Linked DNA regions of Homo sapiens. The protein of the gene in region 1 purifies or fractionates together with the protein of each later gene. This does not show direct contact. Each region holds a gene or a part of one and is shown on either strand. Other genes may lie near its edges.

Region 1 (8,189 bases):
GGTCTCGAACGCCTGTCCTCAAGTGATCTGCCCGCCTCAGCCTCCCAAAGTGCAGGAATTGCAGGCATGAGCTACCACGCCTGGCTGGATGAAGTAATTTGTTTCACTAGCATAATTTTGATTTATATGGAATAGTAATTATAATCAGAAATATCAAAGCCTTTCTTTTAAAAGTATTTTTCCCACCTGAAATATGAAAGCAACACATGCTCATGACAGAATTTGGAAATTTTTGTGTCTATTTAATGCATAGTTGTGTTCTTATCACATGTGAAATTTGTGTCCTACATTTTTCATCCACCATGATGATGTAAACATTTCCTAACACCTGAAATTTGCTCTCGGTAGGCATCACCCTACTTACTTACAAAGTCATGGTAAGTGTTATCTACTGATGGTCAAAAGATGTTTAAAATGTGTATCTTTATTCAGAAAGTGTTTTTTGGTTGTTTTTGTTTGTTTGTTTGTTTTGTTTTGTTTTTTGAGACGGAGTCTCGCTCTGTCACCCAGGCTGGAGTGCAGTGGCGTGATCTCAGCTCACCGCAACCTCTGCCTCCCGGGTTCAAGAAATTCTCTGCCTCAGCCTCCCGAGTAGCTATGATTACAGGCATCCCCCACCATGCCCAGCTAATTTTTGTATTTTTAGTAGAGATGGGGTTTCACCATCTTGGCCAGGCTGGTCTTGAACTGCTGGCCTTGTGAACCACCTGCCTTGGTCTCCCAAAGTGCTGGGATTACAGGCATGAGCCACCGCACCTGGCCTCAGAAAGTTTTTAGAACATTTGGTTGGTACAGGCCAGAGCACATATGGTCTGTGTAATTAGCCAACTCCTTAGAGCTGCTTGGGGTTTCTGGACTGGCTGAGTTACTGCTTCATATCTTTTAGCTCTTTAGCCTTATTAATGGTTGAATTACATATTAACTTTTCTCATACAGAAAATGTTCATTCTCCCTGAACATGAAGAGCTAGGATAATGATTTTCTTAAAATGAGCAGATAGCAGATGTTGATCTTAAAGTGTTCAAGGATTGAGGCCTTGTTTAAGAGAAAATCAAGCTTCTGGCTGTTTTTCATGACTCTAATTCTAGACATTTATATTTTTATGAAAAAATGTATACCACCTTTTAGAATTTCTACAAGGAAGAAGTTTTATTAATACTCTATTTTGATATACAAATGTCTTGCTTTGGTTGTAGAAGAATGCAAGATGTGTGTGGAGAATCTTTATATATGTAATTCTTTGAAGTTCATCATGGGAAAAAAATCTAGCCGTCTATTCATGTGTTAATTTTTCAGTAGTGTTTTATTATATGGCTTATGTGCTGATTTAAGTGTATAAAACCACATTGCTTATTAGAATATGATAGAATTTTGAATCTATATAATCATATTCTAATTCATGAAAAATCACATGGAGTCAAACTTTTTTTTTTCTTCTAGCCAGATGAATTATACTTTGAGGAAGGTGATATTATCTACATTACTGACATGGTAAGTCCAGATAACATCTTGTAATACCACATATAAAGACTGTTTTATGTAGCTATAACATTGTAAGTTATTTAAATATATATGTACATAGAAATACATATGTACAAGTCTGTTCATTTTAGCACAATTGATAGTAGCATAAGATTGAAAATAGCCCTTATTTCCATCAATAGGGAAAGAGTTGAATAAGCTTTGGTCTAGCCACAAACAGAATATTATGCAGCTGTAGAAAGAAATGGGGAATATCTCTATATGCTATTATGAAGTAATTTAAGTGAAAAAAAAAGCAAAGTGAGAAAATGTAGATAATATATCCTCAGTTTTCTAGGAAAGGGTGAGAGTGTATGTGTACACACACATACATGCAGACACTTGTTTTTCTCAATTTCAGATAAAAAGTTGAAAGATGAGTTGCAAAGTAAAATTTAGTTTTATTCTATGAAGAGTAAAGATCCTTTCTCTAGGTGGAAGGAGAGAAATAGGGTATAATGAACATAGATGGAAGATAGACTTTTTAGAAAATTATACCTTGTTTTGTGGATTTGACTTTGAACTGATGTAAACCTTGACATGGTTAAAAATTGAAGTAAAAAGCAATCCCTAAAAATTAAAAGCAGAATGAATCAAATGAACTTAATTGTACCCTGGTAATTGGCCTAACCACACAGAGAGGAAATATTCCAAGTTTAAAACTCAGCAATTTGACTGAACATCCATAGTAGAATATGGATATGTATGAAAGACATATATATATATATATATATATATATATATATATATATATATATTTTGTCCATATATATATATATTTTGTCCATATATATATATATTTTGTCCATATATATATATATTTTGTCCATATATATATATATATATTTTGTCCATATATATATATATATATTTTGTCCATATATATATATATATATTTTGTCCATATATATATATATATATATATTTTGTCCATATATATATATATATATATATATATTTTGTCCATATATATATATGGACAAAAAGAAATGGCCAAAAAAGGGTAAATTGTTTTAAATCATGCCCTTGTTAGGGAAATGTAGGTATTGCTAATTCTGAGATTGTTGCATGTGTATTGTGGTTTAGAGCAAATGAGTAATTAGGTCGGTGATGTTGCTAACGGATTTTCAGCATAGCAAAAAGGATACACAGATGTAAGATTAATGACAGTTTAAGAAAAACTCTGTATTCCTTCATCTGAATTGCAAGGATCACATTGTATTTTATCTAAAATAAAACAAAAATATTCCCTGCTGTGTTCTTTGAAAGGGCCTAGGAAAAATGACCAACCCAATAATAATATGTTATTTTCCATTGAAATGTACAGGCTTCTTTGAGAAATGGCTGGTACCAAGTCAGGGGCAGCAGAGGTACAAGATAAACCCAGAACATCCTCTTATTAGAAAACATGGAAGCTCCTAAAGACAGTAGGGTCACACTGAAAGGACTTGGGAACGAACTTGAAGAGACTCCCACTGGCCAAAGATAGGACAATTTGAGCATCAATTAGGGCAACAACTTCCAAGAATTGAAACCCATTAAATACATTTAAATTTATGAGTTTCTAATGTTACTTCTGAGGAAATCTCATTGGTCAGCATGAGAGAATGCTAGGAAATCAGGTTTTTATTCTGACAACTGTTAAGGGAAAGAATCACCATTTATTCTGTGTTTTCTTTATGAATTTCTTACCTGGGCAATCTGAGAGCTGATGAGGAAGTTTTTGTTTAAAGAGGTATTCAGGTTATTTCAATGAAGAAGGAATGATAGAATTAGAATGTCACCATCTTGCAGCCTCTAGGAAATAGTGGATCTAGACAATGATCATCAAGGGCTACTAACATTACAAAAAGAAGCCGACTAGATAGTTTGCATTTCCTAATGGAAGAAATCAATACTGCCTAGGAAATAGCCTTGCCAAAAAAAATTGGAGCTGAATCTAATTAAACCTCTAGAACTGATGACCAATTTATAGGCAATACAGGGAACAGAGGAACATGCTTAATGATAACACAGGGATACAACAGGCAAAATCCATAGAGGTTGACACTACAGAACAAACCAACTGGATTCTTCAACAAATACATTGTAAGAGATAAAAAAGAATGGAGAGACAACCTATAGATTAAAAGATACTTAAAGACAAATCAATCATATTGTATAGCCCTTATTTGAGTCCCAAATTATGGGGCAGTTGGGAAATTTGAGTATCGACCTAGATATTTGATGATATTAAGGAATTATTGTTGGAAAAAACTTTTAAGCTGTGATAATGGCATTATAATTGCCTTTCAAAAAGTATGTGTCTTTCAGAGATACGTACTGAAATATTTACAAATGAAATAATATGATGTCTAGAATTTATTTTAAAATAATCCAGGAGGGGAGGGACGTCATGGGGGCATATATGAAACAATATTGGTCATTAATAAATGATTTGTGCAGTTGGGAAATGGGTATATATATGGTCATTACATTGTTCTTTCTACTTTTTTGTAAGTTTAAATTTTTCTATAATAACAAGTTACCCCCAAAATGAAGATAATATAAAGAGATCTTTAGAACTTCCTCCCCCATAAAAAAAATTATCTCAAAGCTAAGAGAAATGAAACTGTGGACAAAAAATCATATAGCTAGTCTAAACTAGCGTAATTTGTTTTCTTCTGTTTCATGTCATCTCTTATTTGTTTGGTTGTTGAGACTCTGTCATGAAACGTATTCCATTTGTTGCAGGCAGATGCGTGTTTATTTGTAACTGAGTGGTAAGGGAGACGGACACCCACAGCTAGGGCGTGAGGAAGCTTGATAGTGTGGGTAGGGTTGATGGACATTTTGTAGAACAGGTACTCCCTAGGAGCTAGATAATTTGAAAAGTGAATGAATGCAGTCTGGATTTCATACCACTTAATTTAACTCTTCTTTTACCAGAGCGATACCAATTGGTGGAAAGGCACCTCCAAAGGCAGGACTGGACTAATTCCAAGCAACTATGGTAAGTGTTGCTGAGTGGTTTTACTTTAGCTTCGTTCACTTGGAATTTTTTGGTTCTTGATGCTTTTCTGCTTGCTACTGTGGCTGAGAAAGCAATGGAGTCATTGTCAGTCTAGGACATTTTCTATTCCATGAGCCTTCTGTTAATAAACTGGCCATGAACACCAGATGTGCTTGAGCCTGACTCTGTGGCCTAAGAGAATGCATTTTAGCATTCTTAACCCAAGGTTTCCAAGGAAACACTTATGGTTTTACTTTCTTCAACCCTTAAAACAATTTTTTTTAATGCTGATAAACTCAATCTTGCAGATAGTTTCTTAGACTAGCCGTTTCTTTTGTGATGGAGTAACCCGGCCTTGTTCATTCATGTTTGGGGCAGTGATGTTCATTAAATGCTTATCATGGCAGTTTGGAGACTTTGAGAGATGAGAGACACGGCTCCCGCCATGAAGCTGCTTCAAGCTGGAAGTGGGACAAACAGATAAAACACTTGTTTAGTTGTCAGCAGAATCAAGTCAAAAGAGCACAGAATTGATAAACAAGGCTCCTGAGTTTTAATCCTCTTTCTTCCATTTCCTAATAACACTTCCTACTGATTCTAGGACAGCAGCGAACATGCCTTCTTTAAGAGGCAGGTAGCTATGCTGATTGTTCTTTCTGAATACAGGAAGCAAAATACTCCCCTCATCCGATCCTACATAAATACACACAAGAGAACCAAAATTATTTTCAGGTATCTTTAAAGCAGAGTGATCTACAAAATGTAAAAATGAACATCAAATGCTTCCTTTTGCATTTTTGTGACTTTGTTTATTAAATACTTGAGTAATATCAAGTGTGCATTTAACTCAGGTATGCGGGTTTGTTTGTTTTTGTTTATACTTCCAGTTAATTACTATGTTATTGCCTTATTGCTTGGCTTGGTTTCCCTAAACACATAATTCAGCTTCATTTAATGCAAGAACTATCCATTTGATTTTCTGTTACTTTTTATCCACATTAAGTAAAGGAAACTGTGTTGAATGCCCTGGTACTCCTGAAGCTGGGGGACTGTGGTGAATGAGTGGCTTCAGTAAATCATTTGTGTGGCAATTCCACATTGGGTTAACACTTTTTATTTTCAATCTAGTGGCTGAGCAGGCAGAATCCATTGACAATCCATTGCATGAAGCAGCAAAAAGAGGTAGGTGTGATTCTTTTTGACTGAGGTATGCAGTACAGTAAAAGGCACGGATTTCAATTAGCTTTGACAAGTGCATACACCCACGTAACCAACACCCAGATCAAGATCTAGAACATTTCTGCCATCCTAGAAAGTTCCCTTTGCACCTTCTCAGTTAAATCCCTGCCTTACAGTCTGTCCCAACATCTACTACCCTAGAGAAGTGTGATTTTAGTTTTAAAATGTCAGTCAAGAAACACTGTTGTGGGGAGATGCAAGTCGAAAGACATGGTCTGTGACTTCCAAAGCACAACATCTGGCAGGGGAGAGAGAGATGTAACAGATCATTAAAATATGGTATGATAAGTACAGCAATTGAAATGTGTTTGACAGGCCGTAGAGGCCCAGGTGAGTAACTGGAGGGCAAGAGAATGGAAGGGTCTGGTGGGTACAGCATTTAGGAGAGCGTTGGTGTGGTGAGCATTTGGCCAGGGAGGGCATGACTAACAGGGATGAACCTGGGGAAGATCCTTGACCAAACAACGATCAGCCTTGTCTTGGGCTTTATTCTGTAGATCAGTAGTCCTCAGCTAGGGGTGATTCCTCTTTCACAAACCCCGAGGGTATTTGGCAATATCTGGAGACATGTTGACTGTCATGACTGGAGGGATGTTACTGGCATCTTTTGGGGAGAGGCAGGCGTTGTTGCCACACATCCTACAGCACACAGGAGCACCCCCACAATAAATCCAACCCCAAATGCCAATGGGGCTGCTGCTGAGAAACCCTGCTGTAGATAATGGGGAGTTTTTGTAAAGCCTCAATGAGCTCCATTTCATTCCATTTTTAGATTTTTTTGGAAATCTGAATGTACACAAGGAAATTATTGGTTAGGATTGTGAAAAAGTAAAAGGACTAAACTGACATTTAAAAAATTCTTTGTGAATTAGATACTTGGGACATTAGCCTGAGGATTTTAAATTAATAGTTATAGTTTAGCATATAAGAGCAGCAGCTTTGAGTAGGTTATTTAGCCTTTCTTATAGGAACTGAAGATGCATTTTAAATATGAATATGAATAGTATCTGCTTGTTCTTAGGTTTGATTGTTTTTTCCTCAATTTCCAGAATTTCACAAAGAAAAAAATAATATATACACATACACACACATACACACACACACACACACACACACACACACACACACACACCCCTATATATTTTTTAACAGAATAGAAATACCTTAAGTATACCCATTTGGGCAACTATTCCCATTAACTTATCATTAGAAACATTGATGTTAATACTTTCCATTAATAAGCTGGAAGTCAAAATGTACCATAATAAATGCATTAATGGGGAGGTCTTAATTTAATACTTGCTGATTAATCCATTGCAAATGGAAATTTATGCAGAATGACATTGATTTAAAAGCAAAATAAAAAGTGAAAGCTTTTTTTCTTGTGTTCTTGTAAATGTAAAATTCTTTCAGGCAACTTGAGCTGGTTGAGAGAGTGTTTGGACAACAGAGTGGGTGTTAATGGCTTAGACAAAGCTGGAAGCACTGCCTTATACTGGGCTTGCCACGGGGGCCACAAAGGTATTACATTTTGTTTGTTATATGTTTCTATGCTGCTGAAAATGTGTTTCACCTACGGGAGCCAGATTTACAAAAAATGAGAAAGGAAAAGCATTGGCTATTCTTTTTGAATCCTTTAGAATACCGGCCAAAACCCTTGTTCCTGGAAGCTCTGTAGAACAGTGGGTAGAATGTGGTCAGTCAGCCTCACTGCATGGGTCCCTCTCGCTTGAAAGACTGGACACTTCCTTTCCTCTCTCAGGCTTAGAAAGGTTACTGGAAAACAGCAGTAATATAAAAACAAAACCACTGTCTAATCTTACAGAAGGAAAGATCAGAATTTGCTCCTCTAGCTTAGCTTTTCACAAGGTCTTCTTTTATGATTTGCATTTTAAGTTTAATGCAAACTATTAGATTCAAGAGAAAGCCAACATTTGCCAAAGTTAGTGATTCCATTGATACTTTTTCTGTTGTAATCAATAATAATGACAAATTGAATTTTTAGATGTATTTCTTCCTGGACAAAAATTTATCACCCACCGCTTTTCTACCTCTCTCTATAACAAAAGAAATAAACTCAACAACAATAAGAAATGAAGATCTCAACAAATTAAATAGCAGTGCCAAAGGAAAATTTGTAACTGTCTACTAAAAAGAAGCCTATCTTATTTCAGCTAATAAACATGTTAGTTATATGAATGAAAAGTATTATAGTGAATGTAAAAATATTCCTCTAAGTGTCATATGAAAATGCAAAAGCCAAAACTATTAGAAAAAGTATATTTTCCTAAATAATTCCACTTTTTAGATTCTTAAGTTTTTCTATTTTATAAATTTTACAAAATGTGTTAACATTTTCTTGAAGGTTCTTCTGAAGAATCTCTCTTTTATAAAATTATTGTACCTAGATTTGTCAGGCTTCTAATTTTCGTTCTTA
Region 2 (8,686 bases), on another chromosome or scaffold:
AACAGGGTCGTATGGAAGATTACATAAGATATTGCACATTAAGCACTTAGCTCAGTAGCTAATAGCTAGTGAACCTAATACATGATGTATGTTATGATAAAAATAGTGATTGTAGAGGACATTTCACACTGATATGATACAAGTCTCTCTTTCATTAGTGTCTTGTTAAAGGTTTCTAATTTTCCCATTGACAAATTTTCTTTTTTTTTTGGAGATGGAGTCTCGCTCTGCCACCCAGGCTGGAGTGCGGTGGCAGGATCTTGGCTCACTGCAACCTCCGCCTCCCGGGTTCAAACAATTCTCCTGTCTCAGCCTCTACTACAGTTGGGACTACAGGTGCAGGACACCATGCCTGGCTAACTTTTGTATTTTTAGTAGAGACGGGGTTTCACCATATTGGTCAGGCTGGTCTCAAACTCCTGACCTCGGGTGATCCACCTGCCTTGGCCTCCCAAAGTCCTGGGATTACAGGTGTGAGCCACTGTGCCCAGCCAAATTTTCTTTTCTTTTCTTTTTTTTTTTTTTTGAGACGGAATCTCACTCTTTTTGCCCAGGCTGGCCCGCACTGGCCTGATCTCGGCTCACTGCAATCTCCGCCTCCGGGGTTCAAGAGATTCTCCTGCCTCAGCCTATCGAGTAGCTGGGATTACAGGTGCCTGCCACCACAGCCAGCTAATTTTTTTTTGTATTTTTAGTAGAGACAGGGTTTCACCATGTTTGGCCAGGCTGCTCTCCAACTCCTGACTTCAGGTGATCTACCTGCCTCAGCCTCCCAAAGTGGTGGGATTACAGGCGTGAGCCACCGCACCAGCCCCACATTAATTAACTTTAGTGTTGTGAGTGCATTCTGAATGATTTTTTATGGTATTGACAGGGAAACTAGTTTTATTGCTCGATATTATTTTCTTGCTGCTTTCCAAAATGCATAAACAATGATTTAGTTCACTGATAGATTTATACAGAAAATTTTACTTTGTATTCATTTTGATTTTTTTATTTGTTCCTTTTCATTCAGCCCCAGAAAAAATGCAATTAATCATGCCAAGGTATTTACAAAGCCTTATCTGACTAGCTCCATCATGTGTCTAGAATGAGTTTTACAATTTTAAAAGTTGCTTCCACTTCACTGCTACTATGGTCTTGAATAAGAATAAATATCTGGCTGGGCTCAGTGGCTGAAGTCTATAATCCCAGCACTTTAGGGGGCTGAGGTAGGCAGATCATTTGAGATCAGGACTTTGAGAGACCAGCCTGGTCAACATGGCGAAAACTCATCTCTACTAAAAATACAAAAATTAACCAGGTGTGGTGGTGGGCGCCTGTATTCCTAGCTACTCTGGAGGCTGAGGCAGGAGAATCACTTGAACTCAGGAGGCAAGAGGTTGCAGTGAGCCGAGATAGAGCCACTGCACTCCAGTGTAGGTGACAGAGCATCTCAAAAAAAGAAAGAAGGCCGGGCACGGTGGCTCACACCTGTAATCCCAGCACTTTGGGAGGCCGAGGTGGGTGGATCACGAGGTCAGCAGTTCAAGACAAGCCTGGCCAAGATGGTGAAACCCCATCTCTACTAAAAATACAAAAATTAGCTGGGTGTGGTGGCGGGTGCCTGTCATTCCAGCTACTTGGGAGGCTGAAGCAGAGAATAGCTTGAACCCGGAAGGCAGAGGTTGCAGTGAGCCGAGATTGCGCCACCGCACTCCAGCGTGGGTGACAGAGCAAGACTCCGTCTCAAAAAAAAAAAAAAAAGAAAGAATAAATATTTGGCAATATATTACTGAATCCTCTGAAAAACAGATGGAAATCAGAATTGGGAAAATGTTCCTTTTTTTTTTTGAGACAGAGTCTCGCTCTGTCTCCTAGGCTGGAGTGCAGTGGTGTGATCTTGGCTCATTGCAAGCTCCGCCTCCTGGGTTCACGCCATTCTCCTGCCTCAGCCTCCCGAGTAGCTGGGACTACAGTCACCAGCCACCATGCCTGGCTAATTTTTTGTATTTTTTTTTTTTTTTTAGTAGAGACGGGGTTTCACCATGTTACCCAGGATGGTCTTGATCTCCTGACCTCGTGATGCACCCGCCTCGGCCTCCCAAAGTGCTGGGATTACAGGCGTGAGCCACCACGCCCGGCAAAAACTGCTTTTATATATATATATGACTTTATAATAATCTCATGCTCATATATATTATAAAATGATATATAATCATATATAAATCATATGTACATATAAAATCTCATATATATTATAAAAAATGAACACAAGCATACATCTTCATCAAAGTCCTGCCTACTACAGTTAGATGTACCTCTTGAAACTTGGAAGAGATTATAGATTATTAGGGCAATAAAAGTAAACGCTAAAACATTTTTTTAAAAAATCAGAAATGATGATATAATGGACTAATAGTCTCAAGGTAGTTTTTGATAAATCCAAGACTGATCAATTGTCAGTCGACTGTCAATGGCTTATTAAGAGATTTTCAGTGTTTCATTGTATACCTGGGCTAATCTTGGGAAACAAACTATGCCTTTGTCTGTACATCTCAAAGCCCATGTCAATCTGACTACTAATGAGGGTTGACCATGGATGGGATGGTGTCTTAGGTAGTGTTTCTTGTGTTACTGGTAAGCTGACACTTCCGTCTTGGTAACCTCTGTTCATACACTCCTAAAATTCCTGATAGGTTTTGTTGTTGTTGTTGTTGTTGTTGTTGTTTTGAGACAGGGCTTCACTCTGTTGCCCAGGCTGGAGTGCAGTGGCACGATCAAAGCTCACTACAGCCTCGAATTCCCGGCCTCACATGATCTTCCTGCCTCAGCCTCCCAAGTAGCTGGGACTACAGGCATGCACTATAATGCCCAGCTAATTTTTATTATTATAATTTGTTGATAGAGACAGAGTCTTGCTATGATGCCCAGGCTGGTCTTGAATGCCTGGCTTCAGGCAATCCTACCATCTTGGCCTCCTAAAGCGCTAGCACTGTAGGCATGAGCCACTGAGCTTGGCTGACCTAATAATATTCTGAAGCTGATATTTCCCTATGAGATATGGAGTCAGACTTATCTGAGACTTTATCATGTCTGTGTGTACCTAGGCAATGCCTAGTACAGATGGCATGCTGTTTTCTTTCCAATTCATACTACATAACTATGTCAGATGAATTTCCTGCCCTAAACTATAGCTCCAAATATGGCAGTTCCTTGCACAAAACTACTGTCGCATTTCATTATGCTTGCTTCTTTCCTGTATTTATTCTTTCTAAAAATTTATCGTTTGTTTTCCCCATCCTAAAATTGTAAGCTCAGTGAGGGCAGGGACCAGTTGTAGCTCCAGTGTTTAGCTGTGCTGTCTTATAACACACATTCGATTATATTGTTGCCAAACTATGTAAATGATTACTACAAGAATTTGGACAATATGATTTTCTTTCAACTTTTAAAAGTGAGATATAATGAACGTACCATAAGACTCACCCATTTAAAAAGCATAACACAGTGGTTTTTAGTATATTCATAAACTTGTACAATCATCACCACTAATTCCAGAATATTTTCATCACTTCAATAGGAAAATGCATACCTGTTAGCAATTACTTCCATCTCCCCTCTCCCCCAGCCCCTAGCAAACCACTAACCTACTTTTTATCTCTATAGATTTCCCTATCCTCAACTTTCATTTAAATGGAATTATATAATATGTGGTCTTTTGCTCCTGGCTTAACACGATATTTTCGAGATTCATCCATGTTGTAACATTTTGTTTACCCTTTTAGACAAGATAAAGTTTAATACCCTTTCTAACTCTATGCTCAGATAGTCAAGTGAAGAGCTACAACCAAATTTCTTTTTCCTTTCTTCCTTTCTTCTCTCTCTCTCTCTTTCTTTCTTTCCTTCTTTTTTTTTTTGACAGAATCTTGCTCTGTCGCCCAGGCTGGAGTAGAGTGGAACGATCCCGGCTCCCTGCGACCTCCGCCTCCCCTGTTTAAACGATTCTCGTGCCTCAGCCTCCCGAGTAGCTGAGATTACAGGCATGTATAACCATGCCGGGCTAATTTTTGTATTTTTAGTAGAGAAGGGGTTTCACCGTGTTGGTGGCCAGGCTGGTCTCAAACTCCTGACCTCACGTGATCCACCAACCTCAGCCTCCCAAAGTGCTGGGATTGTAGGCGTGAGCCACAGCGCCCTGCCTCAACCAAATTTCAGAAAGTATCATAATATCATTATGCTTCATAGTTTCTCTATGCCCTGAAGTTTACCAATTTTATCTTCTACAGATTCCAGGAAGGCAGCCTGTTAAGACTCACCAAATTTACTTCCTCAGCCTCCAGAACAATAAAATCAAACTCCCTACCTTGATTTTAAGATTCTGCTTCCCCCCACCCCGCCCCACCCCAATCTTCTCCTTGGATATTCGACAGTCTGGAATAATGCATTTTTACAGTTCTGATTGTTTTCAGCAGATGTGTTGGCTGAGGTTGGATGGGGTTTCTTCCCACCTATCTCTCCTCTCTCCTTCCCTCTGCCCACTGCACGTGCAACAACTTTTCTGCCATCAAAACGTGCAAAAAAGAAACAAGAAAGAAAGGAAAGAGAAAGAAAAGAAAAACAGAAAAAAGAAAAGAAAAAGCAGCCGGAAGTCTTCCTTTGTTTTCCAAGGAAATTCAGGTAAAAGGAGGGGTGGGGAAATGATATTTTTGACTTTGCTCACAATCCAGACGTAGGAAAGAAAAAGGATTTCCTTTGGGCTGCTGCCACGACTCTGATGTTTTATGCTGATAAAATATTTCCTTCTTAAAAAAAAGTTCTGGGAAAATCATGCCCCTTCAACTTGGAAGCGAAACCCACCCTAACTTTCGTCTTAAAACGCAGCGAAGTGAAAGGTTTGCTCCTCTTTCACGAGGGTTTTGTTCCTTACAGTTCGGGTCTTGCTACCAGGAGCGAGCTGGGTCCGCAGCGTTCTTCGGTGGCTGGCGCGGGAGGAGGACTACAGGATCCAGAGATCTTTGGAAACTCCAGCAGCTCCAAGCTTGTTGGCTACTACGGTTTCCCTGAGGAGTGACGCTACGAAAACAAACCCTGATTGGTCAGGCCTGAGCTGAGTTCTCCATTTATGGACAGATTGCCCGGCCCGAGCCGAGACTCAGCCAGAGGAGTACGGATTAAGTGGCCGAAGAAAGAGGAGTGAGGCAGGGGAGCGAGGCGGACGCTCCGAGCGCATCGGACTCACCTGGGCCGGCGGCGACCGGCGAGTACGAGTGGACTCTTGCCCTCCGCAGCATGCGCCCCGCCTGCTAAGTCGCCGCCGTCTCGCCCTCACCTAGCACCGCCAATCCCGCCTGGATGGAGTCCCCTCTGGGTTCCCATTGGCTCCTGTGAGTGCTTGGGTGTCGGGAGCCTGTTTTTGGCGAGGGGAACCAACTTTTGAAGTTCGCCCAGAAGACTGCGTTCCAGCCCCAGTTCCCCGGCAGCGGGACCCGGCGAAGACGCGACCGCGGCGCGAGTCACCATGGTGAGTTGGCCGCGCCGCGTCCTAGGACGCCGGACCCGGGGACGGGGCAGGAAACCCCGGCGTGGTGCACCCACCTTGGGCGCGCTGCCGGGGCCAGGGGTGGAGAAGGTGGACGCGGGAGCCGGCACGTCGCGAGCTCTGATTTCCTGCCGCTTTCCGTAAACCCGGGCCGGGGGAGAGCGAGCGAGGGGCCAAGGAAAACTTTATTCCAAGTCGGTTTCTGCGTCGCGAAACTTTCTGTGGCCGGGTTGCTATGGCTGCCAGCTGTCGGAAGCCAGGGTGTGGGCGCATCGGCTGCGAGGGGCACGGCGCGGGAGGGGGTCCCCTCCTCCTGCTGGGACGTGGGGGGCGCAGCCGGCAGGGGAGGTGCTCGGAGACTCGCGCCGCAGCCGCTGGCGGCGTCCCCTGCCCTCCCCGCGGCCGTGCCCGCCCCGCCCCGGGCACCCTCGCGCCGACTCCCTCTCCTCCCCGCCGCCGCTCCGCTGCCCGGCAGCGCCCGCAGCTGTCCCGCCTGGCAGCGGCACGCGGGCGGGGGCGGTCCCTGGCCCGCCTTGGCGAGGGGCGGCGCGGGCCGCACAAAGGCAGGCGGGGGCGCCAGGTAGGGCGAGCACCTGGCGGCCGGCGGGCTGTCAAGAGCCAGGGAGACTCGGGCGCGGGCGGCAACCACGCCGCCCCGGACCTGTGCCGGGCGCCGGCCCCGAGGGTCTCCGCGCCCCGGACGCCAAGTAAACACCTCCTGAAGAGGACCCCACCCCTTCCCAAGCGCGAGGGGATCGGGGCTTTTCGGGGATCCAGGGGACGCTTCGCACGGGAAGACGCCCTCGCGAGTTTCGAGTTTGTTGCTGTTTTCCCTTTGGCACTTTGGGAATGTGTGGAAGGGGCCGCCTCTTTGACTTGTGACTTTTCTGCTATTCCAACTCCCCAGTCCAGCTACACTCCCCTCCCTCCCTGTATAACCTTAGCCACCTCCCTTGGGCTTTGGCGTGGTGTACTTTTCTTTGCGGGGCACGAAAGCAAGGACTCTATTTTGAAGAGATCGGCAGTTCATCAAAAAAAAAAAAATCTATTACAAGGCTTCATAGTTTCCACACTTGCTTCTTTTCAAGTAGTCCTGCTTAGGTGGATTATCTCGTCCTCTTCTGGTTTGCTGTTGTTTTCTAATGGCTGTGGAAGAGAAGCCAAGTCAAAATGATAACCAGCACAACACTAATTAAAAAATCGATATCCCGGTGAGCAGCCTGAGGGAAGTGCAGCAGAGGCCCATCGAAACCTGCACACAAAGCTCAGAAGCCCCCTTGCCCCGTGCTGTTTATTCCAAAGAATGATTACAAACAAACATCAACGAGAAACCTTTCAAGGCATCCTCGGCCAAAGCCTTTTCTTTTTACATAGTCCAAAATTAAGTCACTTTTGCCCCATCTAAGAGAACACTTTGTCTATACATTTCCTCTTCTAGTTTTAAGGTTTAAGAAGTCAGTCTACTCTACGTTACTTTTGGACCCCTTCCCTCACCCCAGCAGAGAACCATTCCCATTGGGCATGTGTTTGGGTGAAGCTACCTCACTGGGCACCTGGTCCCTTGAAGCAGTGTGATAGTCCTGGTACTTGAGAATTGCTGTAATCATTTTCCGTGGGTCAATATTTCTTAAAAAAATCAATGTGTTTATGTCAAGAACTTAAAGAATCTTACTGAATTTAAGTACTTGAGTGGTACCTTGAGGAAATTAACTTCCCCTCAGTTAAACTCATTTTTCATGCTGAATGGACTGAAATATACTCTAGGTTGCCTTTTCCGAAACCTGTGATACCATGCTTAATTCAGCCCCATTGCAGATGAAGTAGAGGGTTGGTCAAATGCATGCGAAGAAGGCATGCTGTAGGGAAGAGGTGGTTCTATCTGAGGACAGTGTGTGACTTCCCTATTGATGGGCTCCCTGCCATCAGCACAGATGGGCATGTTGTGTGCCCCCAGGCGACTATCTGTGCATCAGATATGGTTGCTGAAGTCACAATTCACTGATGGAAAAGTTGAAACAGCTGGCTGTCCTGAAACAGGAGATGTGCCATTGATAGATCTACTGGATCCAGAGTGATTTGGCCAAAGTTAATCATTTCTTTCCTGACTTGAAAAATTGTTCATTATGTATGTGAAGTTGCCTTAGAATAGAGCATCATCTTAAATAATCAGAAACCCAAGTTACAATATTTAATGTTTATGTCAGACTCTGTCAAGCCAAATGATACTTCATTTTGTGTTCCACATCTGCCCAGGCCTGCCCAAGTTGTATCCCTTCAGCTGCTTAGAACAGGAAGGGAAAGGACATTACCTTCTTTGGGTGTGGCTGAAGATTAGCATGGAGGCTAAAATTCATCAGAAGGCCCTTGGCGGCCAGGCGCAGTGGCTCACGCCTGTAATCCCAGCACTTTGGGAGGCTGAGGCAGGAGGAATACTTGAGCCCAGGAGTTCAAGACCATCCTGGGTAACATAGTGAGACCCTGTTTCAGTTAAAAAATATTAAGAAGAAGAAGAAGAAAAAGAAGGCCCTTGGCTGGGCTATAGGGAGAACACCTATACCGTGGACTTCTTCTGTGTGAGTGTGTGTGTGTGCGTGTGTCTTTTAGGAAGTCTGGTAGCATAGTAGGAGGGCTCTCCATCTGTACCTGAGGCCCTACTAAGACTCATTCAGTTGTGACTCATAAGGAAAATAGCCATTTTCATTTTCTGACTCATGAACACAGTGTACAGCTTGTAGTTCACCTTCTATCTTCCTCCTGAAAACTCACTTTGGGACACTTTTCTATCTTGAGAAAACTAGGAACACTACCAGGCAATAGTTACTTGTGTCTTTTTCCTAAGGAGACTTGAAGAAGTTAAAAAAAACCCTGCACATCTTTATAATTTAGTGGAGGTTGTTTAGCAGAGTACAAAAAAATCTCTGTTGACTTTAACCGTAATACCCATCTAAGGCTTCCTTCGTAGAATCTGGGCTTATCATCATCTGCAAAGGAAGTTCTGCTTTTGTGGCCATGACCAGTTTGGACTCTCTGATAGACTGAAACCCATGGCTGTAGGTCCGCTATGTGCTTTGGATCCAGAAATTGTGATTGATTTTTATGCAAGGTTTCTGTGCATTAAATATACAGAAATATTTGAGCAAATCTGAATTGACCATCACCTCAAAA

The links.
Region 2: the proteins of OSTF1 (region 1) and MYO1E purify together in Homo sapiens (co-immunoprecipitation; 4 studies listed by BioGRID and IntAct, with this or other methods). This does not show direct contact.

Annotation. Positions count from the first base shown.
Region 1 is NC_000009.12:75,126,129-75,134,317, forward strand, and holds part of OSTF1 (osteoclast-stimulating factor 1), read left to right. Parts: intron 1-348; exon of another isoform or gene 349-374; coding exon of another isoform or gene 375-377; intron 378-1,440; coding exon 1,441-1,491; intron 1,492-4,449; coding exon 4,450-4,513; intron 4,514-5,641; coding exon 5,642-5,695; intron 5,696-7,165; coding exon 7,166-7,273; intron 7,274-8,189.
Region 2 is NC_000015.10:59,369,315-59,378,000, reverse strand, and holds the start of MYO1E (unconventional myosin-Ie), read left to right. Parts: upstream 1-5,129; 5' UTR 5,130-5,500; coding exon 5,501-5,503; intron 5,504-8,686. UniProt on the Homo sapiens protein: Actin-based motor molecule with ATPase activity. Unconventional myosins serve in intracellular movements. Their highly divergent tails bind to membranous compartments, which are then moved relative to actin filaments.